7 linked regions of the Homo sapiens genome follow. The protein of the gene in region 1 purifies or fractionates together with the protein of each later gene. This does not show direct contact. Each region holds a gene or a part of one and is shown on either strand. Other genes may lie near its edges.

Region 1 (3,500 bases):
CAACTCATTAGAGGGCAGCTGGGCAAATCCTCTGATTCCAGGGAGGGATGAAGGGAGGGAGAAGGCAGGGCCAAGAATGTCCTACCATAGGATCTGCAGCCCATCGGAGATCACTGTAGCCCTCAGCCCCCGGCCCAGGGAGGAGCATGTTTAGTGGAGGAGCACTGTGGTGGAGTCGGAAGACTCCGTTCAAACACCACCAGTGATACAGTGTTACTGTGCACAGTTCATGTGACTTTTTTCTCACGAGTAAAATGGAATTGATAATACCTACCTTGCAGGACCACGACAGGATTAAGTGAGGAAAAACCCCCATGAGAGTGTTTTGCCATTGTCAAGTGAGCCTGAGGGAGGCTGAGGGGGGATCAGGCTGTATCATGCCCCCGAGGACAAACTTTCCAGTTTACCCTGCTCCCTCTCTCTGTCCCTAGGCTGCCCCAGGCCCTGTGCAGACACACCAGGCCCTCAGCCGCAGCCCATGGACCTGCGGGTGGGCCAGCGGCCCCCAGTGGAGCCCCCACCAGAGCCCACATTGCTGGCCCTGCAGCGTCCCCAGCGCCTGCACCACCACCTCTTCCTAGCAGGCCTGCAGCAGCAGCGCTCGGTGGAGCCCATGAGGGTAAAGATGGAGCTCCCTGCATGTGGGGCCACCTTGAGCTTGGTCCCCAGCCTCCCCGCCTTCAGCATCCCTAGACACCAGTCTCAGTCCTCAACTCCTTGTCCCTTTCTGGGCTGCCGGCCCTGCCCACAGCTCTCCATGGACACGCCGATGCCCGAGTTGCAGGTGGGACCCCAGGAACAAGAGCTGCGGCAGCTTCTCCACAAGGACAAGAGCAAGCGAAGTAAGGAGGTGGCCACCCCAGCCCAGCCCAGCCCCACCAGCCAGGTGCCTGCGGCTGCCTGTGTGGCTTGTGAGGGGTGAGGTGGGAGGGCCGCAGCCAGCTGGGCCTGAGCCGAGGCTTTCCCTCTGCTTGCCTGGGCTCTGCCTGTGAATGTGTGGGGGATGTGGGGGTGGGGGGTGGTGTCTGGAGGCTCTAGGGAGGGGTAGGGCCTCGGGCTTGGCTCTTGCCTAGGGAGTCCCTGGGACGCCTCCTACTGAGGATGGGGACAGGGCAGTGGCCAGGTAGTGCCACGAGGCCGCCTGTCCACCCACCTCCAGCCCCCTCCTGACTCTGCCCCTACAGGTGCTGTAGCCAGCAGCGTGGTCAAGCAGAAGCTAGCGGAGGTGATTCTGAAAAAACAGCAGGCGGCCCTAGAAAGAACAGTCCATCCCAACAGCCCCGGCATTCCCTACAGGTAACACCCTCCTCACCTGCCCTCCTGTCCCCACATGCACCCTCCACCCCCGCCCCCGTGTTAGCCATGAGCACACACACTTGCCTCCTTCCTCCCCAGTTGCCACAACCAGTCCTTACCCTTCCTCTAAACATAATGCCCCCGAGCCCCTCTCTCAACTGATACCTGCCCTCCTCTCTTTAAATTCTCCCCACCCCACCTGAGCCCTTCTCACACACACACACACACACACACACACACACACACACACACCCTACTGGCTTTTTTCTTGCACATGAGCCCCTTCTCTCTTTATATTTTCCCTGAGCGCAAAAATGTCCTGGTTCCCAGAGCAGGTTCCTAGTGCAGGTGACAGAGCCCCCAGTGGGCTCTTCACCCACGCACCAAGCACCTGGCTTCTATGCCTAGGTCAGAGCTCTGCACTATAGCTGCTGGAGCGGACAGGCGGCCCACTGCTGCCACCTGGAGATGGTCCCCATTCCTACCAGCCCCACATTGCCCAGCCCTGCCCGCTGCAGCCTCCCCCTCAGGTCCCAGGGCCCGTGCTCAGGGCAGTGCCCGTGCAGTGTCCCCACACCTCTGAAGCAGCCTTGGCACTCGTTCTGTAGAACCCTGGAGCCCCTGGAGACGGAAGGAGCCACCCGCTCCATGCTCAGCAGCTTTTTGCCTCCTGTTCCCAGCCTGCCCAGTGACCCCCCAGAGCACTTCCCTCTGCGCAAGACAGGTGAGCTGAACAAACAGGCGGACCTTTCAGGCAAAGGAAGGGGGAAGGGCCTCGGACATGGGGGAGGAGTGTGCAGGGGTGGGCGGGCTGGGCTGGGCCAGGAGATCATCGGTAGGCTAGGATCTTCTTTCTAGTTCTGCCTTCTCTTTCCTTGACCGATAGAGATGACTGGGACTGAGGGGTTAAAGGGTGGAAAAAAGAAGGGTGGTGGGGGCCTGAGTGACGCTGGTGCTCCCTGCAGTCTCTGAGCCCAACCTGAAGCTGCGCTATAAGCCCAAGAAGTCCCTGGAGCGGAGGAAGAATCCACTGCTCCGAAAGGAGAGTGCGCCCCCCAGCCTCCGGCGGCGGCCCGCAGAGACCCTCGGAGGTGAGGGCCGGCTGAGCCAGTGCGGTTGCCATCCTCAAACCTGGCTGGTCTTGTCCCTTTGGGTCAGGCCCCACCTAGACAGGGGTCCCCTCCTTAGGACTGCCATGCGTGGTTGCATGGGGGTGTCCCACACACTTGCCGAAGCGGGGGAGTTGGGGCTGAAACCCAGTCCCTGCTCTGTTAGCTAAGGTGACATCTCCCAGAAAAGGGGGCACCCTTCAAAAAATTATGCAAAGGTGCTGTAGGCCAAAGGTGGCCTGTCTTCTTCCTGCTCTGATGGGAAGAAAGCAGGAGGCCGGGCGCGGTGGTTCACGCCTATAATCTCAGCACTTTGGGAGGCTGAGGCAGGTCAATCACCTGAGGTTAGGAGTTTGAGACCAGCCTGGACAATATGGTGAAACCCTGTCTCTACTAAAAATACAAAAATTAGCCAGGCACGGTGGTGCATGCCTGTAGTCCCAGCTACTTGGGAGGCTGAGCCAGGAGAATCGCTTGAACCCAGGAGGTGGAGGTTGCAGTGAGCCGGGATCGTGCCATTGCACTCCAGCCTGGGCAACAGAGCAAGACTCTGTCTCAAAAAAAAAAAAAAAGAAAGCAGGAAGCAAAGGTGCTCGTTAAGGAAGGGGGTGCTCCCGGGTCTCCTGCACCAGGCGGCCTGGCTGTACCCTCCTGCCCACCCTGGCCTCTGACTGCACTTCCCTCTCTCCCCAACCCTCAGACTCCTCCCCAAGTAGTAGCAGCACGCCCGCATCAGGGTGCAGCTCCCCCAATGACAGCGAGCACGGCCCCAATCCCATCCTGGGCTCGGAGGTAAGGCCTTGCCGAGACTGGGCTCTCCTGGGGCAGTTCTGAGGCTCAGCCTTCTTCCAGCAGGCGGCCCTACCTGGGCTGGGGCTGCAGGGTCTGGGCAGCCCCTGCCAGAGCCTCCTGGGTGTTCTGGGGAAGGTGCGCCGGGGTAGAGGTCTGGGACCGGTGACCCTCGCCCTGCTCCCTATGGCAGGCGCTCTTGGGCCAGCGGCTGCGGCTGCAGGAGACTTCTGTGGCCCCGTTCGCCTTGCCGACAGTGTCCTTGCTGCCCGCAATCACTCTGGGGCTGCCCGCCCCTGCCAGGGT
Region 2 (3,325 bases), on another chromosome or scaffold:
CGGGATGACTTCTGTGCCTGGCTTGGGGGATGGCTCCTGGCTGGCCTTCACACTCTCACCCTCCTGCTCGCTGGGCTCGGGCAGGGGCATCCCGGGACCCAGGGCCTGTCCCTCAGGCCACACTCAGCCCCCAGCAGGTGGATTTCTCCTACTCCCAGGCAAGGAACCTGGAGTCCAGCGGTTCCGTCCTAAGGAAGGAAGCAAAATCCCGTCAGTGGTGGAAGCCCTTGGGAGGCTCTAGACGTGGATCTGGGAGGGAGGTGGGGCAGATGGGGCTGCCTCACTGCTCGCTGGGGCCAAGACTGACAGGGGGCCTGATGGAACTAGGCTTCTGCTCTGCCAGTTCCTCTCCTGGCAGCCTTGGGAACGTCAGCCCCATCCAACCCCACTTTCCCCATCTGGAAAAGGTGCACAGTAAACACCCTCCACAAGGGGCCATCAGAATGACTAATGGACTAAGAACTCAGCCACTACCAATGGGCCTCCCACATGCTGAGCACGGACGAAGGGTTTCCACCCTGAGGACTGTTTCCAGTCCCACCTCCCACCCCTGTTATGACAGCAGGCTGTTCTTATGGACCCAGTCACAGTTGAGGACACTGAGACATGCCAGGGTGATCCACACGGCCACAGAGTGGCAGAGATGGAGTGGACACAGAGCCCATGACCACACAGCATCTGGTGTACTTTGTCCATGTTAACAGACATCAGTGTCCCTGGGCACCAAGCATCAGAGCTAAACACTCTGGGGACATTAGCTCAGTTTGTGTTGTCACAGGGAGCATGGGCCAGGCACCTGCCAGCACTTTGCAGACCATAGCACTGCAGCTGGCCCTGGCAGGTGGGACAACCAGATCCAGCCACATCCCCGTCTGAAGGCCCACATGCTCCTCTGCTCGTTGGTTCTTTTTGTTTGTTTGTTTTGGAGACGGAGTCTCGCTCTGTCGCCCAGGCTGGAGTGCAGTGGCACGATCTTGGCTCACTGCAAGCTCCGCCTCCCGGGTTCATGCCATTCTCCTGCCTCAACCTCTCCGAGTAGCTGGGACTACAGGCGCCCGCCACCACGCCCGGCTAATTTTTTGTATTTTTAGTAGAGACGGGGTTTCACCGTGGTCTCGATCTCCTGACCTCGTGATCTGCCCGCCTCAGCCTCCCAAAGTGCTGGGATTACAAGCGTGAGCCACCGCGCCTGGCCACACCCACTGGTTCTCACACCAACCTTGCGTCTGAGCTAGTGCTGGCGCTGCCCTGGCTGGGTGGGGACAGCGATGTGGAGATGTTGTGGATCCCACCGTCACTGAGGACTCCTTGGCTTCTGGCCTGGAGAAGCAGAAAGGATGGGTTGTAACCCTGTAGGGGCAAGTGCCGGGCCACCCCACACTGGTGCTGCAGCACCTCAGGACTGGGGCTCCAGGCCAGTGTGGGGTGGCCTTTCTGTCTTTTGGGGGTCAACTGGGTGGTGGGCAGACCATGGGGTCTTTCCCAGCTTACAGTTTTAGCCTAGACACAAGACTGCAGCTTGGGCAGCCACCTAGCCCCCTGTCCAGGACCCAGGCAGGACAAGGCCCAGAGACACCCACTTTCCCCTCGGGCCGATTCCCCAACCTGGGCTTGAGGTTCTCATGGTTTCCTTGGACCCCTCCCAATGCGTCTGTCCTGAGGGGTCCATGCCCAGCACCCTGGCGCTTTTTCTAAGACCCTATTGTCCATGAGAGGGGCCTAAGGATGCAGGACTGGAGTACAGGGTTGGGGGCCTTGTCCTGAGAGCTTCCCTCTGTAGTCCTCTGACCACTAAACAAAAGCAGATGTGAAGCCCCCACCCCAGGGGCACCTTCTCGAGGGGGTGGGCACTTGAAGAAATGCGCCAGGCGGCGAGTCACATGACTGCAGAGTACCGCAGGGATCGGGGTCGCGTTATCCGTCCGCCTCCGGACAAGCCAACCCCTGTTCCTCCCGTGCGGCCCTTCCGGCTCTGCTCATCTGCCTCACAGGGCGATGTGGGGATGCCGGGGACCTGGGGGCCACTCTGGGGCCGTAAAGAGTTACGGGAGGCCCCAACCACATAGCGCCCTGCTTCACACGCTGATTGGCTACGGCGCACGTCCCTCTGGCGGCCGATCTCCCCACGCCTCCCACACTCCGCAGCATGAGTGGGCAGTCCGGGCAGGAATAAATGCCAGGTTCCCTGACCCCACGTCCGAGTCCACCCCGGGTCCTCTAGCGCCTCCCGCCGTGTCGGTTCTGCCACTGCAGCGCTCCCAGACTCCAAAAAAGATGAAGCCTCTTGCATACCCAGCGTGCAAATTCCTGCAAGATACAGCAGTTGGTCCCCACAAGGCTGGCAGGGACCCAGACCTAGCAGCCTCCTCCAGGCCAGCAGCCATTCTCCGAGACCTCCACACTCACTCTGACCCCCAGACTGCACGCCTCCTTATATTAGGTTAGTGCAAAAGTAATTGCGGTTTTGCCATTGCTTTCAATGACAAAACCGCAATTAATTTTCACCAACCTAATATTTGGCACCTGAGGCACCTCCTTGCCATTCCATAGTCCCAGCCCTGCAGCCAGGCCAACTCTGAGCTGTACAAAAGGGCCCCAAAGGGGCCGGGCGCGGTGGCTCACGCTTGTAATCCCAGCACTTTGGGAGGCCGAGGCGGGCGGATCACAAGGTCAGGAGATCGAGACCATCCTGGCTAACATGTTGAAACCCCGTCTCCACTAAAAAATACAAAAAATTAGCCCGGCGTGGTGGCGGGCGCCCGTAATCCCAGCTACTCGGGAGGCTGAGGCAGGAGAATGGCGTGAACCTGGGAGGCGGAGCTTGCAGTGAGCCGAGATCGTGCCACTGCACTCCAGCCTGGGCGACAGAGCGAGAATCCGTTTCAAAAAAAAAAAAAAAAAAAAAGAAGAAAAGAAAAGGGCCCCAAAGTGACGTCAGCCCCATCTCAAATTCAAACCCCATATTAAACGAACAAGACAGACCTAAACTATTGACTAATTCTCCAAAGCGAAAAGTCAGGAAAATAAAAAAATCTCGTTAAGCTGTAACAAGAAGGGAATCGTGAAATACGTAAATTGGGCTCTTTCATATTGTGAAATATATATTTGGTGTTTGACCCTCTCTCCCAGTACATAATTCCTAAAATTCCTGGAATCTCCAAAATGATGTCTTTTTGTATGCTTAGGCACTGACTGATGGCTGGCAGCCCCTGGGCTGCTTCAATGGGGCTGGTCACCAGAAAGACCAAGGCAGGGTTAGAGGGTTGGGACTTTCAGCCCCTCCTCCAAACTCCAGGAAAGGGAGAGGGCCTGAAGGTTAAGTTGA
Region 3 (2,750 bases), on another chromosome or scaffold:
TGAGTCTCATTCTATCACCCAGGCTGGAGTGGAGTGGTATGATCTTGACTCACTGCAACATCTGCCTCCCGGGTTCAAGTGATTCTCCTGCCTCAGCCTCCTGAGTCGCTGGGATTACAGAGATGTGCCACCACGCCCAGCTAATTTTTGTATTTTTTTTTTTTTTTTTTGGCAGAGATGGGGTTTCACCATGTTGGCCAGGCTGGTCTTGAACTCCTGACCTTAAGTAATCTGCCTGCCTCGGCCTCCCAAAGTGCTGGGATTACAGGCCTGAGCCACCACGGGGCCCCAGTGTGCAGTCTTTTATCCCCTCAGTCTGTACCCAGTGTGTAGTCTTTTATCCCTCACCCCCCTGCTCCCACCCTTTCCCCCTGGGTTGAATATTTCAAATCTATTTCTTCCTTAAATCTTACTCAAAGGAAATCCAATACCATAGTCAGTTTCACCAAGGATGAATTTCTTGACCCAGAAAGGAAAGCTCATTTTAGGGAGATGGTCAGTTTAGGTATGTGTCTGAATTTTATTTAAGATAGATGAACGTGGATATATAGTTATGCATTTGGGCCTGAATTTTTTTTTCTAGTTGTTCTTTTCACTGAGCTTTCCCAAGAATCCCCCCAGAATTAAAAAAAAAAAATTACTATCTCCTCTCCCTGGCATATAAAATGGTTGGGATTAGATTTACCAAACCATTACATCTCCCTTTTGTCTGCCTGCAAACAGATTTTCCAATCCATAGGCCCAAAGTGAACTCCCACGTGGAGTAGGATGAAAACCCACAGCATCTAGATCTTCAAATTCTGGAGAAAAAGAGAGTGTGAAAGACTGCTCAGTGGCTGGGGTGAGAGTCAAGTCTGGCCAGGTGCTAATCTGGAGAAAAGCCAAGACCTGGAGCGAGCTGGAGTGGCAGGCCCTGGAGGATGAGAAGGTGGCAGGAGTGCACTGGGGATACAAAGAAACCAAGATTTTTCTGGGAATTCTCAGAGGCCTGGATCCACGAAAAACTCCGCACCTGCCATCGAAACCACCAGGTGTACCGGATTATGGCTGAGCAGCTGTGAGAACATGGCTTCCTGTGGACCCTGGAGCAATGTTGCTATCGGTTCAAAAACCTCCTGACCGACTACTGCAAAGCCAGGAGCACCTACACACCAGGCACCAGTGTCTTCTATGATGAGATGGATGCCCTGTTGAGTCTTGGGGCACTTTCTAACACCTTTGATGCCTTAGAGGTGGTAGGAGGCCTTCTTTGGGATTGAGAGGATTCCAAAGGGAACCAGGGCATAGCACTAGAAGATGTGGCGGGATGGTAATGAAATAGTGGAGGAGTCTCAAGAGGAATCCTGGAGGCTTGGTCCCCAGGCCTTGAGGTGGAATCCCAGTGGCAACTCTCCCCCACAATGGACCTCAGAGCAGTGGGAGCGACGCAGTCCTGTGGGAAGCATTCAGGCTCAGAATCAGGAGATGTGATTATTGTCCTGGCTCTGTTATGACTAATTTGGGTCTGGAATGGCCTCATCGGGGGAAAAATTGGTGACAACTTTAAGAAATACTGTTTATATCCCGTCCTCAAATATTGCTTGACTCAACCCTCTACTGAACCAGTAGTCCAGGGTGGCTCACAAAGACCACTTTGAGGCTCTTGCTCTGCTCTTTAGCCAAGGAGTCTCCCTTCCTGCCTTCAGTAACAACATTACAGGAAGAGAGGAGAGAAAGGTAGGAGTTAAAGATCCAGTCATTTGTTTCCATCTAAAGTGCCCTATAAGCCGGGCATGGTGGCGCAAGCCTGTAGTCCCAGCTACTCGGGAGGCTGGGGCAGGAGAATCACTTGAGCCCAGGAGTTGGAGGCCGCAGTGAGCTGTGATCATGCCACTGCATTCCAGCCTGGGCGACAGAGTGAGACCCAGACTCAGCTGAAAAATAATAATATTATTAAAAGAATTTAAAATAAAGTGTTCCATAGATGTGAACCCTGCGTAGATTATACACACCAGTCTGCCATTTAAAAGGTTTGTTGTTCTTGGGCAACCTCTTTAAATACCCTTAGCCTCCATTTTCTCATCTGGACAGTGGACATTGTGATGGTTTCTACCTCCCTGGGCTGTTATGAGGATCCTGACACAGTATTAGCACTTGGCAAACGTTAGTTTTCATTATCATCATCATTATAATTATTATGAAAATAGATAAGGGCATTATCCTGTACCCTCAAAGGAGTAAAAGGGGGAAAATGAGTCATTAAACTTTCTCTTCTGGGAACTAGACCTTCTTGAGAGGCACTATCATTCTCATTTCACCTGTCACTTCCAGACATGGGAGCAGAAAGTGAATTTCAGAACTCCATGTCCCCTCCTGCTTTTCTCTGAGCAGGACTTCCAGTTCCCCAGCCAGATGGGGTCACAATGCTGCAGAAAAGTGAAGAGCTTTGGAATGAAGATCTCCCGGACTTCAAGGAGATTCAGAAAACGTCCAGTGCAGGTGGGAAATGAATGGGAGCTAGCATTCCACCAACAAAGTCAGCCCTGGGATTCTAAACTCGGACAAGCCAGCACTGGTTAAGGGCTGAGGGGAACCAGGCACTCAGTGCACCCAGTTTACTATTCTGTGGTGTGGAAAGCACAGGACTTGAGAAGCAGGTGGCACCCAGGAAAGCCTGTTCCCCTAAGTAAGTTTGAACTTTAGTTACTTGAAAAAAGGTATAACTGAATTATGAGTGTTTATGATTTTATCTTTATTTTATTTTTTTTGAG
Region 4 (3,500 bases), on another chromosome or scaffold:
GATATGTTAAGTATACATAGTAATATGTATTATATACACATATATTTATTATATTTATTTATGTTAATTATAAATAATCGCACGATATAATTTTTATTATTAATAATAACAGGATTCCATTTTTTAAGTACTTGCTATGTGCTAGGCCATTTGCTAACACTGTCTCATTAAAGTCCTAGGAAGCAACTATTATTTACTGATGAGAAATGGAGGCTTAGAAAGTTAAACATCTAGCCCGAAGTCACAGAGATAAATGACAGAGCCACAATTTAAAAGCAAGCTCTTACTGTTTTTTGCCTGTAGTGACTATTAACAACACACTGTATTCCTCAAATTACACTACCACAGAAATAGGCAAAATATGCCAAATCCTTCAAATGTACTAAGTCAGGGAAAGATTTATGTGACTTTGTTGCTGTTTTTTCCTCTCTCTGCATCTAAGCATTATTGTAAAGCAACAATGACCCCACAAGGACATTAGAAATAAACACATTTTTGCGACCATGTAGAGTTTTTACTTTTTAAAGAATTAAATAGCTTTTGTATACTATTAAAAGAGTGATATTATTTTATGCTATACCCAATAGCTTTCAAGATAACTGTTAAATAAATTTAAATGGTGGGTGTCTACAATTACAGGATAGTCCTGCAATTCCCACATGTCATTTGTTATTTCTTTCCATAGTAAAATTTAAAGTGATAGAAAACTGGTTTAGGCAATATTCTAACACCAAGTCACTTATTTAATGTTGCAAAACTTTAAAATTGGTGAATTCTTCCATTAACTAAAAAGTTATTTCTACAGATACATGCTGAAGAGATTTAAAGTATCAACAGTATGTTTGAACTAAACAATATACACACTAAAAAAAAGGTAAAGTAAAAAGGGATGTTAAGAATTTTATACTTCGAGCAGTTTGTGCAGGTTTTCTTGGGAGGAGGTGGCAGGCAGGCAGGTGAAGAATGTCTGGTGATGCATCGTGTGGAGCAGAAGAGCTGAGTAGATCCTGTCTTATGATATGCAGTTTGGCCCTTATAAAGCATTTTTTTACAACCAGAACAAAAAACCTTAATAGCAACAGCTGGAACTGAAGGAAGCAACACACTTGGGCCAGATGATGCAAAAGAAAGCTGAAAGCCTGGGTTCAACTGCTGGGCTATCAAAACAAAATAAAAAAAGTTTTAGTATCAATACTAATGCATATACAGTCTCAGTCTCTCTCTCTCTCTCTCTTTTTTCTTTTTCTGAGACACGGTCTCACTGTCACCCAGGCTGGAGTGCAGTGGTGCAATCAAGGCTCACTGAAGCCTCAAACTCCCAGGATTAACCAGTCCTCCCGCCTCAGCCTCTTGAGTAGCTAGGACTACAGGCACATGCCACCACACCCAGCTAATTTTTTTTTAATTTTTAGCAAAGATAAGGTATGTTGCCCAGACTGGTCTCAAACACCTGAGCTCAAGCGATCCTCCTGCCTCAGCCTCCCAAGTTGCTGAGATTACAGGTGTTAGCCACTAAACCCAGCCCAGTCTCTCTTTTTCAGGACAAATTCCCAATCTTGAAATCCAGTTAATGAGGCAATAAGAGCTCTAAAACAGAGGTTTCAATTTTTTTTTAACCATTACTCAACGCAAGAAATACATTTAATATTATAACCCAGTTCTCACATACATATGTTTGTAAACGTGGGGATGTATGTACAATTTAATCACTGAAACAGAAGTTTTATGAAACAATATGTTTCCTTACTACACATATCATATTCTGATATAATCTTACTCTATTTTTTAAAACGCTGCTGAAAACCAGCTACTCACAGTTTGAAAAAACACAGCTCTAAAGAAAGAGAAAGACATACATGAAAAGATGCTTTCCCTCAATTTTAAAAGTCAGAATAAGCAAATTAATTGTAACTAACTTATACAGTTCCATTTCTTACCAATAGGTCTCTCATTAACTGAAGACACACCACCAATTTTCAATTTACTTTCTTGAGTTTTTGGCTGTTGGACACATCCATACTCCTTTAAAAAAAAAAAGAAAAGAGAAAAGAGCAATGAATACAATGTATGTAAGTAAACTAGAAATTCAAGCAAAAAAAAATTATTCTATCCTATTCATCTCCTTTTTTTTTTTTTTTTTTTTTTGAGATGGAGTCTCACTTGGGTGCCCAGGCTGAAGTGCAGTGGCGCGATCTCAGCTCGTTGCAACCTCTGCCTCCCAGGTTCAAGCGATTCTTCTGCCTCAGCCACCCGAGTAGCTGGGACTACAGGTATGTGCTACCACACCCAACTATTTTTTGTATTTTTAGTAGAGACAGGGTTTCACCACATTGGCCAGGCTGGTCTCGAACTCCTGACCTTGTGATCTACCCACCTCAGCCTCCCAAAGTGCTGGGATTACAGGCGTGAGCCACCACACCCGGCCCTATTCATCTCTTAAACAGTCTAATCATAAATACCTTCACAAGCACCTCAAAAGTCAAAATTTACAAGTTATTACACTAATCTTTACAAAGACAATCTTTCAGAATTAGAGAATCTTTTAAAATACTTTTATCTACTTTTCAAATGAAATTTTGATATATGGGAGTAATACATAGCTATTCCAAATGCTGAGCACTACCTATTTTTTAGGTAGTGTGTTTAAAAGGGGGTAATAAATGAAAAAAAAAATTTTTTTTTTTTTTTGACATGGAGTCTCATTCTGTCACCCAGGCTGGAGTTTCATTCTGTCACCCAGGCTGGAGTGCAATGGCGTGATCTTGGCTTACTGCAACCTCCAACACCCAGGTTCAAGCGATTCTCCTGCCTCAGCCTCCCAAGTAGCTGGGAATACAGGCTTGCGCTACCACACCCGGCGAATTTTTGTGTTTTTTTCCAGTAGAGAAGGGGTTTTGCTATGTTAGCCAGGCTGGTCTGGAACTCCTGACCTCAGGTGATCCGCCCACTTTGGCCTCCCAAAGTGCTGGGATTACAGGTGTGAGCCACTGCACCCGGCAAAAAGGAGCAATAAATGAAATTAAATCTGGCTGGGCGTGGTGGCTCACACCTATAGTCCCAGCTACCCAGGAGGCTGAGGCAGGAGAATCACTTGAACCCGGGAGGAGGAGGCTGCAGTAAGCCAAGATTGTGCCACTGCACTCCAGCCTGGGCAACAGAGCGAGCCTCTGCCTCAAAAAAAAAAAGAAAAAGAAAAAAAGAAAAGTTAAATCTGAATGATTTAGAGTTTGGATTTCAATCATTTTAGATTTACAAGCTGCCTTTTCTGTTAATGGCAGAAAAGATACAAGAGTGTCAATGCAATCTGCTCATTATACATAAAATCATCACAGACAAAATCCTATTTATTCTTACCACATTCTTTAAAACGTTTTAAAACAAAATGTAATCATGAAACATTTTTAAAATGTAAATGCCTATCTTTATTCTGAAATTGCAACCATCCTTTTTTTTAATGTTAAAATACCCTTACATATTTCAAAACAGGAAGTTTTTTAAAA
Region 5 (3,500 bases), on another chromosome or scaffold:
GCTAAGTAACACGATGCAAAGCTCTACTGAGCTGCACAATCTTTATTATATGGGCAACTTCTGACTTAAGAATGGCTTCTCCCCTCATGTGGGCACAAAGACATCTACGGTAGTCCCTCCTTATCCACAGGGCGTATGTTGCAAGACCCCCAGTGGATGCTTGAAACTGGATGGTACTGAACCCTACACATACTATGTTTTGGCTTTTTTTTTTCCCCATACGTACATACCTATTTTAAACTTTAATACATTAGGGACAGAAAGCATTTAACAATAATAATAAAATAGAAGAATTATAAGAATATACTGTAATAAAAGTTATGTGAATGTGGTTTCTGTCTCTTTCTCTCTCAAAATATCTTACTGTACTGTACTCACCTTTTTTTGAACCACAGGTGACTAAGGTTAACTGAAAGTGTGGATAAGAGGTGACTACTGTACCGGGTGGCACGTAACTCACAGGGGTGGCTATTCACAGCAGGGTCAGGCCCTTGGGTCTTACCTCGATAGCACTGACTGGATCCTCCAGCAGTCACCTGGCAGGCAGACTTTAGTTCTAGAGAACCCACAGGTTGGGTACCACGACGAGGAAGGGGTTGGGGAGGCACCAGGTGGGGAGGGCCAGTGGTAGTTTTGGTGAAGTGACTCTGCTGTGGTACTTGACTGTTACTCTTCTCATTAGTTCCTGCTCAGAAAACAAGGGAAGAGCAGATTAAAGTTCAGCAAACTAAGTGAAGGGACCATATGTGTGGAGGTGAGGTCAAGAGAGAGGGATCATCACCATTCCGATGAAGGATTCCTAGAGAAGGTAGCATTTTAACAGTTGCTTAAACAATGGGGAAGAAAGTAGAGTCCACAGGAAACAGGAGAAAGTTTTTTATGAACCATAGGTGTAATGTGAAAGAAGTCTCAGAAGCAGATAATAAAATGGAAAAGTGAATGAATCAACACATTCTTTATTAAAAGGGCTTCCCGAATGTCTCTTGTAAAGTCGATGCAAACCCGGAGTTCTGAGGCATAAGCCACTTTACCTTGCTCTGGGGAAAGGGTAAGACCACTGAGTACTTCCTCCAGCTCCTGGATTTGTTTGATCAACTTCTGACCCTTGTCTGGAAGAGCCTGGATGTTCACTGATGCCAGTGTGCTCTGAAAAACAGATTCCATCAAATGGATCTCTCCTCTCACACTGTTAGATGAATAGTTTCAGATTAAAATAGCCTGAAACACCCAAACTCTGAAATTATGGTCTTTTAAATATGTGTGCAAAAACCAGAACCTTTTTTAAATTTTAACCCAGCTGGCTTACCAATCTTGAAAATATAAATAGGGGAAAAGGCAGAAACTGAACATGCACCTATAAAACCTTCACATGAACATATTTAACCCTTCTGTAGCAATGAGATCTCATATCTGCCCATAACAAGCAATGCTCTGACCTCAGAAACAAAACACGAGTCAATAGTTACCTTCTTTTGTTTCAGTTGTGTTGTAAGGTAGACACGCCGGGCTACTGGGTCTGAGGGTTCTACCTTCTTGGAAACACCTGAGGCAGGAGACACCTTTCTTTGCACACTTCGATCAGGGAATTGGAGGTTTTCCTTCGTCTCTAAGTCCAGAGTCGAGTCAAAGAGTAGGGGGCTCCCAGGCTTAGAGGAAACAAAAACAACATCATCTTCCTCCTCGTCGTCACTGCTTGTGGCAGCTTCACGGCCCTCACCCAGGGAAAGCCCTGGTGCTGCTGGTGCAGCCTGAGCCGCTGGTCCTCCAGGAGCAGGCACACTGTGGGTCTCCGGCCGCTCTTGGAAATGCCCCTGAGGCAGGCTTTTCTGGGTGGCCTGTATGCTAGGGCCATCCTTTGCCTTTGTTTCTTTAGCCTCCCAGTTCGTGTACTCCTTGTTGAGGGGTCCCCCTTTCTGGGGCTTGCTTATTGAGTTGTGACTGTGAACATTTTGAGGCAAAAGCTGGGTAACCTTTTCTCTCAGAGGTTCTGATTCTCTTTGGACATCTTGACTCTTACCACTTGATTTCTCCTGAGAAGATGCAGATGGTCTTGTAAGCTCATTACCTTGGCACTGTTGAGATTTAATTTCAGAAAAGTCTCTTTTGTGTGTGCCTCCAGTCTCTGCCTCACACTGAATCTCTGCTCCCTCTTCTTGCTTCTTCTCTTGAACTACAGATTGTTTTTTCTTTGGTACCAGGCCAGATGAGAGGTCTTTCTCCATCATTTCAGGCTTCTGTTCTTTCTTTTGATCGAAAAGCTGATCTCCCTTTTCTCTTTGCTTCTTATCAGCCTTCTTTTCCTCACCTTCACCTTTGATGAGCTGTTTCCAGAGAGCTGGTTCTTGATTCTTGTCAAGTACCTTGAATGGATTTCTCAGCCAGTTGGAAGAATGATGAAATGTCTCAGATGCATGCTGAGACTTATTGGATACAGAATGTTCTTTGGAATCAGGATCCTAAAGACAAAATAATTAATCTTCATATAAAATATTAATACAAACTTCGTATCTAGAATGCCTTTCCTTTTCATCTCAACTTTTATTTTATATACAGGGGGTACATATGCAGCTTTGTTATATGAGTATATTGCACTCAGGCAGTGAGCATAGTGCCCAATAGATAGTTTCTTAACCCATGCCCTCCTCCCCTCTCCAGTAGTTCACAGTATCTATTGTTCCCATGTTTATGGGTGCTCAATGTTTAGCTCCTGCTCGTGAGAACATATGATATTTGGTTTTCTGTTCCTGCATTAATTCACTTAGGATTATTCTGCAGAAGAAATGGAAACACAGTAAAAGCAGTCCAATATTTCCTGAACATTCTTGGTACCATTTCCACGTCTAGAAAAGATGACGTGCCAAACCCACAAAGGACTCATTTCTTCACGATACTTTCGAAGCTTGGTTCCTTCTCTGTCCATGATCACTCTTTTCCAGGCCTCAAGGAAAAGTAGTGACAAACCAAAGTGCTTTTACAATCACAATGGCCACAGTGTATACTTTTCAGGAAAAAAACTATTCTCTTAAGATGAACTTTTCCCCAAACCTAAACATTGTCTTAAAACACTTGCTTTGATTTTGGCTTTAGGAGGATTTTACTGTGGTAATCTAGAATCGTAAGTTCAAGCCACACCTCTGCCAAAACAAGTCTTATCACCTCCCTACTTCTAGTTCCTCACGTACTGAATATCTGTAGGGCTTCTCCTATTAGGAGATGCTCCTCCTAGTTCTAACATACTAGGAGCTTATGCTTATACTTAGCTTATACCAGTATCAAGTAGAAATTCCTCTATAAAAAGATACAAGAGTTAGTCAAGGAAATCTATTTTTTTCCTTGAGTAAAAGAATACTGACTACATTTAAGACCTCAAAAAATATTTACTAAGTGAAATAGGATGCAAATAATTAATCTTGATTACGACTAAATGATCCTTTGAATAAAAGTCCCAACAGGGCCTACCTTGCTTAAAGAAAACTATCTTTCGGAGACAGTCTGATGAA
Region 6 (3,500 bases), on another chromosome or scaffold:
CCTAGCACTTGGGAGGCTGAGGTGGGCAGATCACTTGAGCCCAGGAGTTCAAGACCAGCCTGGGCAACATGGTGAAACCCCGTCTCTACAAAATATACAAAAATTAGGCAGGCATGGTAGCTCATGCCTAAAGTCCCAGCTACTGTGGAGGCTGAGGTGGGAGAATTGCTTGAGCCTGGAAAGTCAGAGCTGCAGTGAGCTGAGATTGCACCACTTCACTCCAGTCTGGGCAACAGAGTGAGACCCTGTCTCAAAAAAAACAAAAAAACAAAACAAAACAAAAAAACTTTCTTTGGCCAGGTGCAGTGGCTCATACCTGTAATCCCAGCACTTTGGGAGGCCAGCCTGGCCAACATGGCAAAACCCAGTCTCTACTAAAAATATAAAAAAATTAGCCCGGTGTGGTGGCACATGCCTGTAATCCCAGCTATTTGGGAGGCTGAACCTGGGAGGTGGAGGTTGCAGTGAGCCAAGATTGAGCCCCTGCACTCTAGCCTGGGTGGCAGAGCAAGACCCTATCTCTCAAAAAAAAAAAGAAAAAGAAAAAAAAGTGTGTAGCACCTGCCCCTTCACAAGCACCTTCTCTCTCTCTGTCTCTCTCTGTCTCTCCTGTCACCATATGAAGATGTGCTTGCTTCGCTTTCCACCAAGATTGTAAAGTTTCCTGAGGCCTCCCCAGCCATGACTCCTATACAGCCTGTGCAACTGTGAGTCAATTAAACCTCTTTTCTTTATAAACTACCCAGTCTCAGGTAGTTCTTTATAGCAATGTGAGAATGGACTGATACAACATTTAGTGGTATCAGATTCAAAAGTTGCCAAAGGAGGGTGAAGAATCACCAGGGAGCCTCCCTCTCACGCCAGCTGCAGCCACTGTGTCTACCTCAGAGTCAATTGCTGTCACTCATGTCTTGTGTATCTTTCCAGTGGTTGTCCATATTTATGTGTGCATGTGCACACTTTTTGAGACGGGGACTTGCTCTGTCACCCAGGCTGGAATGCAGTGGCATGATCATAGCTCACTGCCGCCTTGACCTCTTGGGCTTAAGCTATCCTCTTGCCTCAGCCTCCCAAGTAGCTGGGACTACAGGTGTGCACCACCATGCCTGGCTATTTATTTCTATAGAGATGGGGTCTCACATGTTGCTTATGCTGGTCTCAAATTCCTGGCCTCAAGCAATCCTGCCTTGGCCTCCCAAAATCCTGGGATTATAGATATGAGTCACTGTGTCCAGTACACTTAAAATACGTGTGCACACACACACACACACACATGTGAGCCATATGTCTCACCACTTGACATAGTTTGTGTTTAAGGTCTTTCTCTGCCATTATCATGCTATCTTCTATTTTGTTCATTGCTGTGTCTCCAGCACTTAGAACAATGCCTGACACATAGTAGGTGCTCAATAAATATTTCTTGAATGCAAATACACTCAATAAACTAGGAATGAAGGAAAAGTTAACCAACTGATAAAGGTCATCTGCAAAACCCCCCACAGCTAACATCATACTTAGTGGTGAAAGACTGAAAACTTTCATCCTGAGTTTGAAACAAGACAAAAGTGCCTGTTCTCACCATTTCTATTCAACATTGTACTGAAGGCTCTAGCCAGGGCAATTAGGCAAGAAAACAAAATAGAAGGGATCCAGATTGGAAAGAAGTAAAACTATCTCTACTTGCCAATAATGTAATTTTGTGTATAAAAAATTTCAAGGAATCCACACACAAAACTATTGGAATTTAAAAACAAATTTAGCCAAGTGGTAGGATACAAGATCAATATGCAAACATCAGTTCAATTTCTATACATTGGCAATAGATACTATGAAAATGAAATTAGAAAAACAATTCCGAAGGCATCAAAAATAATAAAATACACAGAAAAAAATTTATCAAAAGAAGTATCACATACACTGAAAATTGTAAAACATCATTGAAAGAAATTAAAGAAGACCTAAATAAATGGAAAGATATCCTGTACTGATGGGTTGGAAGACTTAATATTGTTAACATGGCAATAATCCCCAAATTAATATACAGATTCAATGAAATGCCTATCAAAATCCCAGCTGCCTTTTTGCAGAAGTTGACAAGCTGATTCTAAAATTTATATAGAAATGCAAGTGACTCAGAATAGCCAAAGCAATCGTTTTATTTTATTTTTTGAGTCAGAGTCTCACTCTGTCACAAAGACTGGAGTACAGTGGTGCAATCTCAGCTCACTGCAATCTCCACCTCCCAGGCTCAAGTGATTATCCTGCCTCAGCCTCCCAAGTAGCTGGGATTACAGGCGCACGCCATTACCGCCTGGCTAATTTTTGTATTTGTAGTAGAGATGGGGTTTCACCATGTTGGCCAGGCTGGTCTTGAACTCCTGACCTCAGATGATCCACTCACCTCAGCTTCCCCAAGTGCTGAGATTACAGTGTGTGCCACCACACCTGACCTCAAAGCAATCTTGAAAAAGAAGATCAAAGTTAGAGGAATCACACTTTGCAGTTTCAAAACTTACTACAAAGTTACAGAATGGGCCGGGCGCGGTGGCTCACGCCTGTAATCCCAGCACTTTGGGAGGCTGAGGCGGGTGGATCATGAGGTCAGGAGATCGAGACCATCCTGGCTAACAAGGCGAAACCCCGTCTCTACTAAAAATACAAAAAATTAGCCGGGCGCGGTGGCGGGCGCCTGTAGTCCCAGCTACTCGGGAGGCTGAGGCAGGAGAATGGTGTGAACCCGGGAAGCGGAGCTTGCAGTGAGCCGAGATTGCGCCACTGCAGTCCGCAGTCCGGCCTGGGCGACAGAGCGAGACTCCGTCTCAAAAAAAAAAAAAAAAAAAAAAAAAAAAAAAAAAAAAAGTTACAGAATGAGGACAGTGTGATATTGGCATAAGTATACACATATAGACAAATGAAATATAATTTTAATTTAATAAACCCATATGTCTATGGTCAATTGATTTTCAACAGATACCAAGACTATTCAACGAGGGAAATAACTTCTTCAATAAGTGATATTGGGACAACTGGATATCAACATGCAAAAGAACGAACTTGGACCCCTACCTCATTCTGCATTCAAAAATTAACTCAATGGATCAAATACCTAAATATGAAACAGCTAAAAGTATAATATTCTTAGAGTAATATATAAGCATAAATCACTAGGACCTTGTTGAATTAGACAATAATTTCTTATGACACCAAAAATGCAACAACATAAATAGACAAATTGGATTTTATCAAACTTAAAAAGAACTTGTATGTTTCAATGAACACCATCAAGAAAGTGAAAGGACAACCCACCAAATGAGAGAAAACACATCCACACAAAAACTTGTACACCAGTATTCATACCAGCAATCATTTATAATACACAAAAGTGGAAACAATCCAAATATTCCTCAGTAGATGAATGGATAAAATGTGGTATATTCATACAATGGAATACTATTCTGCCATAACAGGAATGAAGTTCTGATACATGCTAAAATGTGGAC
Region 7 (3,500 bases), on another chromosome or scaffold:
TCCCACCCATGAGTCCATTAGAAATACCATTCAGAGGCCAGGCGCAGTGGCTCAAGCCTGTAATCCCAGCACTTTGGGAGGCCGAGGCAGACAGATCACCTGAGGTCAGGAGGTCGAGACCAGCCTGACCAACATGGAGAAAGCCCGTTTCTACTAAAAATACAAAAATTAGCCGGGCGTGGTGGCAGGCGCCTATAATCCTAGCTAATCCAGAGACTGAGGCAGGAGAATCGCTTGAACCCGGGAGGCAGAGGTTGCAATGAGCCAAGATTGCGCCATTGCGCTCCAGCCTGGGCAACAACAGTGAATGAAACTCTGTCTCAAAAAAAAAAAGAAAGAAAGAAAGAAAGAAATACCATTCAGCCTCATTGCTGCTGCTGCTTTTGAGATTGACAGATGTCTCTCAGAGAAGCGAGCTCAAATGCTGGGCTCACATCACTGGCTTTCCTATTTTTTAGAACTTGACCCTGCAATTTCTTCATTTCCCTGATAATGCTCTAATCCCCTCACACATAAGCTTTCTATATCTTACATTAAATATTTAATATTTTCTCTAGCTTTTCTGATTATTCTCAGTTGGAAGTTTGGTCCAAACAATCTACCTCTTGCATATAAAATTGTCCCCCCAACTTTTTTTTTTTTTTAAGATGGAGTTTCGCTCTCGTTGCCCAGGCTGGAGTGCAGTGGCGCAATCTCAGCTCACTGCAACCTCCGCCTCCCAGGTTCAAGTGATTCTCCTGTCTCAGCCTCCTGAGTGGCTGGGATTACAGGCGTTTGCCACCATGCCCAGCTACTTTTTTGTATTTTTAGTAGAGATGGGGTTTCACCATGTTAGCCAGGCTGGTCTCAAACTCCTGACCTCAGGTGATCCAGCCGCCTTGGCCTCCCAAAATGCTGGGATTACAGGCGTGAGCCACCGCGCACGGCCGCCCCGCTCCCCCTAACCCTTTTATTTTTTTAATTTGAGACAGAGTTTCGCTCTTTTGCCCAGGCTGGAGTGAAGTGGCACAGTCTTGGCTCACTGCAACCTCCGCCCCTCGGGTTCAAGCGATTCTCCTGCCTCAGCCTCCGGAGTAGCCGGGATTATAGGCGCCCACCACCATGCCTGGCTAATTTTTTTATTTTGAGTAGAGTCAGGGCTTCGCCTGTTAGCCAGGCTGGTCTCGAACTCCTGACCTCAGGTGATCCACCCGCCTCGGCCTCCCAAAGTGCTAGGATTACAGGTGTGAGCCACTGTGCCGACCTATGTCCCTCTTTTTATTCTGAATATTATCTGTGCATTTTCTTAGTACCATGGATGTTTTTCATTTTTATAAGTGTTTTCAAAGACAAAACTTTGTCCCTATTCAGTATTTCTGATGGTTTTTAAAATTTCACTAATTTCTACCTTTTTTTTTTTTTTACTATATTTCCTTCTGCTCTCTTTAGATTGATTTTCCTATTATTTGCAGATAACTTTGCTATTCTCTTTCATGAGATGAATACTTAGCTCATTAATTTTCCTTATCAGTTTATTAAAGACTATAATTTTCCTACTAAGTACAGCTTTACTTGTATCCCACAAGTTTTGAGACATATGATTTCATTATCATTTAGTTCTGAACATTTCTAATTTCCATTATAATTTCCCCTTTGACCCATGAATTTATCAATTCTTTTTGAAAATGAATGAGACTTTTCTAGTTATCTTTTTTTTTTTTTTTCTTTGAGACAGAGTCTCATTCTGTCACCCAGGCTAGAATGCAGTGGCAACCTCAAACTCTGAAGCTCAAGCAGTCCTCCTGCCTCACCTTCCTGGGTAGCTAGGACCACAGGCACATGCCACCACACCAGGCTAATTTTTAAATTTTTGTAGACAGTCTTTCTTCCTTGCCCAGGCTGGTCTTGAACTCCTGCCAGATCCTCCCACCTCAGTTTTCCAAAGTGCTGGGATTACAAGTGTGACCCACTGTGCCAGGTCTCTGGTTATCTTTTTAATTATACTTGTCTCTTGACTTCCAAAAATATAAAATATATAATATATATTATATAAATATATATTTTATGTATGTATTTTTATATATTTTTATATATAAATTTTATATATAAATATAAATATATAAATATATATTTATATTTTATATTATATAATATATTTATATTTTATATTATATATTTTTATATTATATTATATAAATATATTATATTTTTATATTATATTATATAAATATATTTTATATTATATATTATGTATTATATATTTTATATATTACATATATTATATATTTATATAATATATTATATAAATATATGTTTTATATATTTATATATTATATAAATATATATTTTATATTATATATAATATACTTTTACATAATATAATATATATATTTTTCTTGAGACAGGGTCTCATTCTGTCGCCCAGGCTGTCGCCCAGGCTGGAGTGCAGTGGCGCGATTTTGGCTCACTGCAACCTCTGCTTCCGGGGTTCAAGTGATCCTCCCACCTCAGCCTCCTGAGTAGCTAGGACTATAGGCATGAGCCCCACAACTGGCTAATTTTTGTATTTTTTGTAAGGATGGTCTGGAACTCCCAGGCTCAAGTGATCCACCTGCCTCAGCCTCCCAAAGTGTTGGGATCACAGGTATGAACCACCATGCCAGCTAGTTATCTTTTTATTTACTTCTAGTGATCACATTGTGGTGAGAAACTGTATTCGGTATGATACCAATCTTTTGAAACTTGTGGTCTCATATGTGAAAATTTTATAACTGTTCCTTGTGTGTTTGAAAAATATAAGGATGAAGCGGCTGTTACATACAGTTAAGTGTGATATTCAAAGAGGTTAAAAATTCAGGCCAGGCACAGTGGTTCACACTTATAATCCCAGCTCTTTGGGAGGCTGAGGTGGGTGGATCACCTGAGGTCAGGAGTTCAAGACCAGCCTGACTAACATGGTGAAACCTCATCTCTACTAAAAATACAAAATTAGCCGAGCGTGGTGGTGCATGCCTGTAATCCCGGCTACTTGGGAGGCTGAGGCAGGAGAATTGCTTGAACCTGGGAGCTGGAGGTTGCATTCAGGCAAGATCGCGCCATTGCAGTCCAGCCTGGACAACAAGAGTGAAACTCTGTCTCAAAAAAAAAAAAAAAAAAAAAGAAAAGAAAAGAAAATTCAGTGGTAATATAAATTAACATAAATAAAATTTAAAAACATTTTCTAAATAAATTAACCTATATAGATTATAAAAATGCTCACCAGGTGATAACCATTGTAGCTCAAATTGTTCATTAAATCATTCTAGTAATTTTCAATCATTTATTAATTTTTGGAAATTGTAGCCATAATCTTTTATTTGACACAGATGCCCTTGTCTGAACCATGAATTGACATAGGAAACTAGATAAAGCCCTTCTAAGAATGTCCACATTAAATTTATAGTCATTAAATAACTTGTAGTCATGATACGTTAAAAAAAATCACACTTTTTAAAATTTTTTGTAGAGACAAGGTCTCCCTA

The links.
Region 2: the proteins of HDAC7 (region 1) and FLYWCH2 purify together in Homo sapiens (affinity purification with mass spectrometry; 3 studies listed by BioGRID and IntAct, with this or other methods). This does not show direct contact.
Region 3: the proteins of HDAC7 (region 1) and WDR73 purify together in Homo sapiens (affinity purification with mass spectrometry; 3 studies listed by BioGRID and IntAct, with this or other methods). This does not show direct contact.
Region 4: the proteins of HDAC7 (region 1) and ZMYM6 purify together in Homo sapiens (affinity purification with mass spectrometry; 3 studies listed by BioGRID and IntAct, with this or other methods). This does not show direct contact.
Region 5: the proteins of HDAC7 (region 1) and TTF2 purify together in Homo sapiens (affinity purification with mass spectrometry; 3 studies listed by BioGRID and IntAct, with this or other methods). This does not show direct contact.
Region 6: the proteins of HDAC7 (region 1) and MOCOS purify together in Homo sapiens (affinity purification with mass spectrometry; 3 studies listed by BioGRID and IntAct, with this or other methods). This does not show direct contact.
Region 7: the proteins of HDAC7 (region 1) and DCAF10 purify together in Homo sapiens (affinity purification with mass spectrometry; 3 studies listed by BioGRID and IntAct, with this or other methods). This does not show direct contact.

Annotation. Positions count from the first base shown.
Region 1 is NC_000012.12:47,795,904-47,799,403, reverse strand, and holds part of HDAC7 (histone deacetylase 7), read left to right. Parts: intron 1-431; coding exon 432-619; intron 620-751; coding exon 752-842; intron 843-1,184; coding exon 1,185-1,296; intron 1,297-1,862; coding exon of another isoform or gene 1,863-1,904; coding exon 1,905-2,020; intron 2,021-2,261; coding exon 2,262-2,387; intron 2,388-3,105; coding exon 3,106-3,197; intron 3,198-3,387; coding exon 3,388-3,498; intron 3,499-3,500. UniProt on the Homo sapiens protein: Responsible for the deacetylation of lysine residues on the N-terminal part of the core histones (H2A, H2B, H3 and H4).
Region 2 is NC_000016.10:2,893,215-2,896,539, reverse strand, and holds part of FLYWCH2 (FLYWCH family member 2), read right to left. Parts: intron 1,321-3,325; 5' UTR 1,220-1,320; intron 189-1,219; 5' UTR 91-188; coding exon 1-90.
Region 3 is NC_000015.10:84,638,785-84,641,534, forward strand, and holds the end of WDR73 (integrator complex assembly factor WDR73), read right to left. Parts: 3' UTR 501-2,750; downstream 1-500. UniProt on the Homo sapiens protein: Component of a multiprotein complex required for the assembly of the RNA endonuclease module of the integrator complex. Associates with INTS9 and INTS11 in the cytoplasm, stabilizing the INTS9-INTS11 heterodimer and blocking the active site of INTS11.
Region 4 is NC_000001.11:35,018,446-35,021,945, forward strand, and holds part of ZMYM6 (zinc finger MYM-type protein 6), read right to left. Parts: intron 2,023-3,500; coding exon 1,938-2,022; intron 1,158-1,937; coding exon 908-1,157; intron 1-907. UniProt on the Homo sapiens protein: Plays a role in the regulation of cell morphology and cytoskeletal organization.
Region 5 is NC_000001.11:117,073,826-117,077,325, reverse strand, and holds part of TTF2 (transcription termination factor 2), read right to left. Parts: intron 2,457-3,500; coding exon 1,467-2,456; intron 1,147-1,466; coding exon 1,032-1,146; intron 686-1,031; coding exon 503-685; intron 1-502. UniProt on the Homo sapiens protein: DsDNA-dependent ATPase which acts as a transcription termination factor by coupling ATP hydrolysis with removal of RNA polymerase II from the DNA template. May contribute to mitotic transcription repression. May also be involved in pre-mRNA splicing.
Region 6 is NC_000018.10:36,190,497-36,193,996, forward strand, and holds part of MOCOS (molybdenum cofactor sulfurase), read left to right. Parts: intron 1-625; exon of another isoform or gene 626-707; intron 708-2,970; exon of another isoform or gene 2,971-3,500. UniProt on the Homo sapiens protein: Sulfurates the molybdenum cofactor. Sulfation of molybdenum is essential for xanthine dehydrogenase (XDH) and aldehyde oxidase (ADO) enzymes in which molybdenum cofactor is liganded by 1 oxygen and 1 sulfur atom in active form.
Region 7 is NC_000009.12:37,807,297-37,810,796, reverse strand, and holds part of DCAF10 (DDB1- and CUL4-associated factor 10), read right to left. Parts: intron 1-3,500. UniProt on the Homo sapiens protein: May function as a substrate receptor for CUL4-DDB1 E3 ubiquitin-protein ligase complex.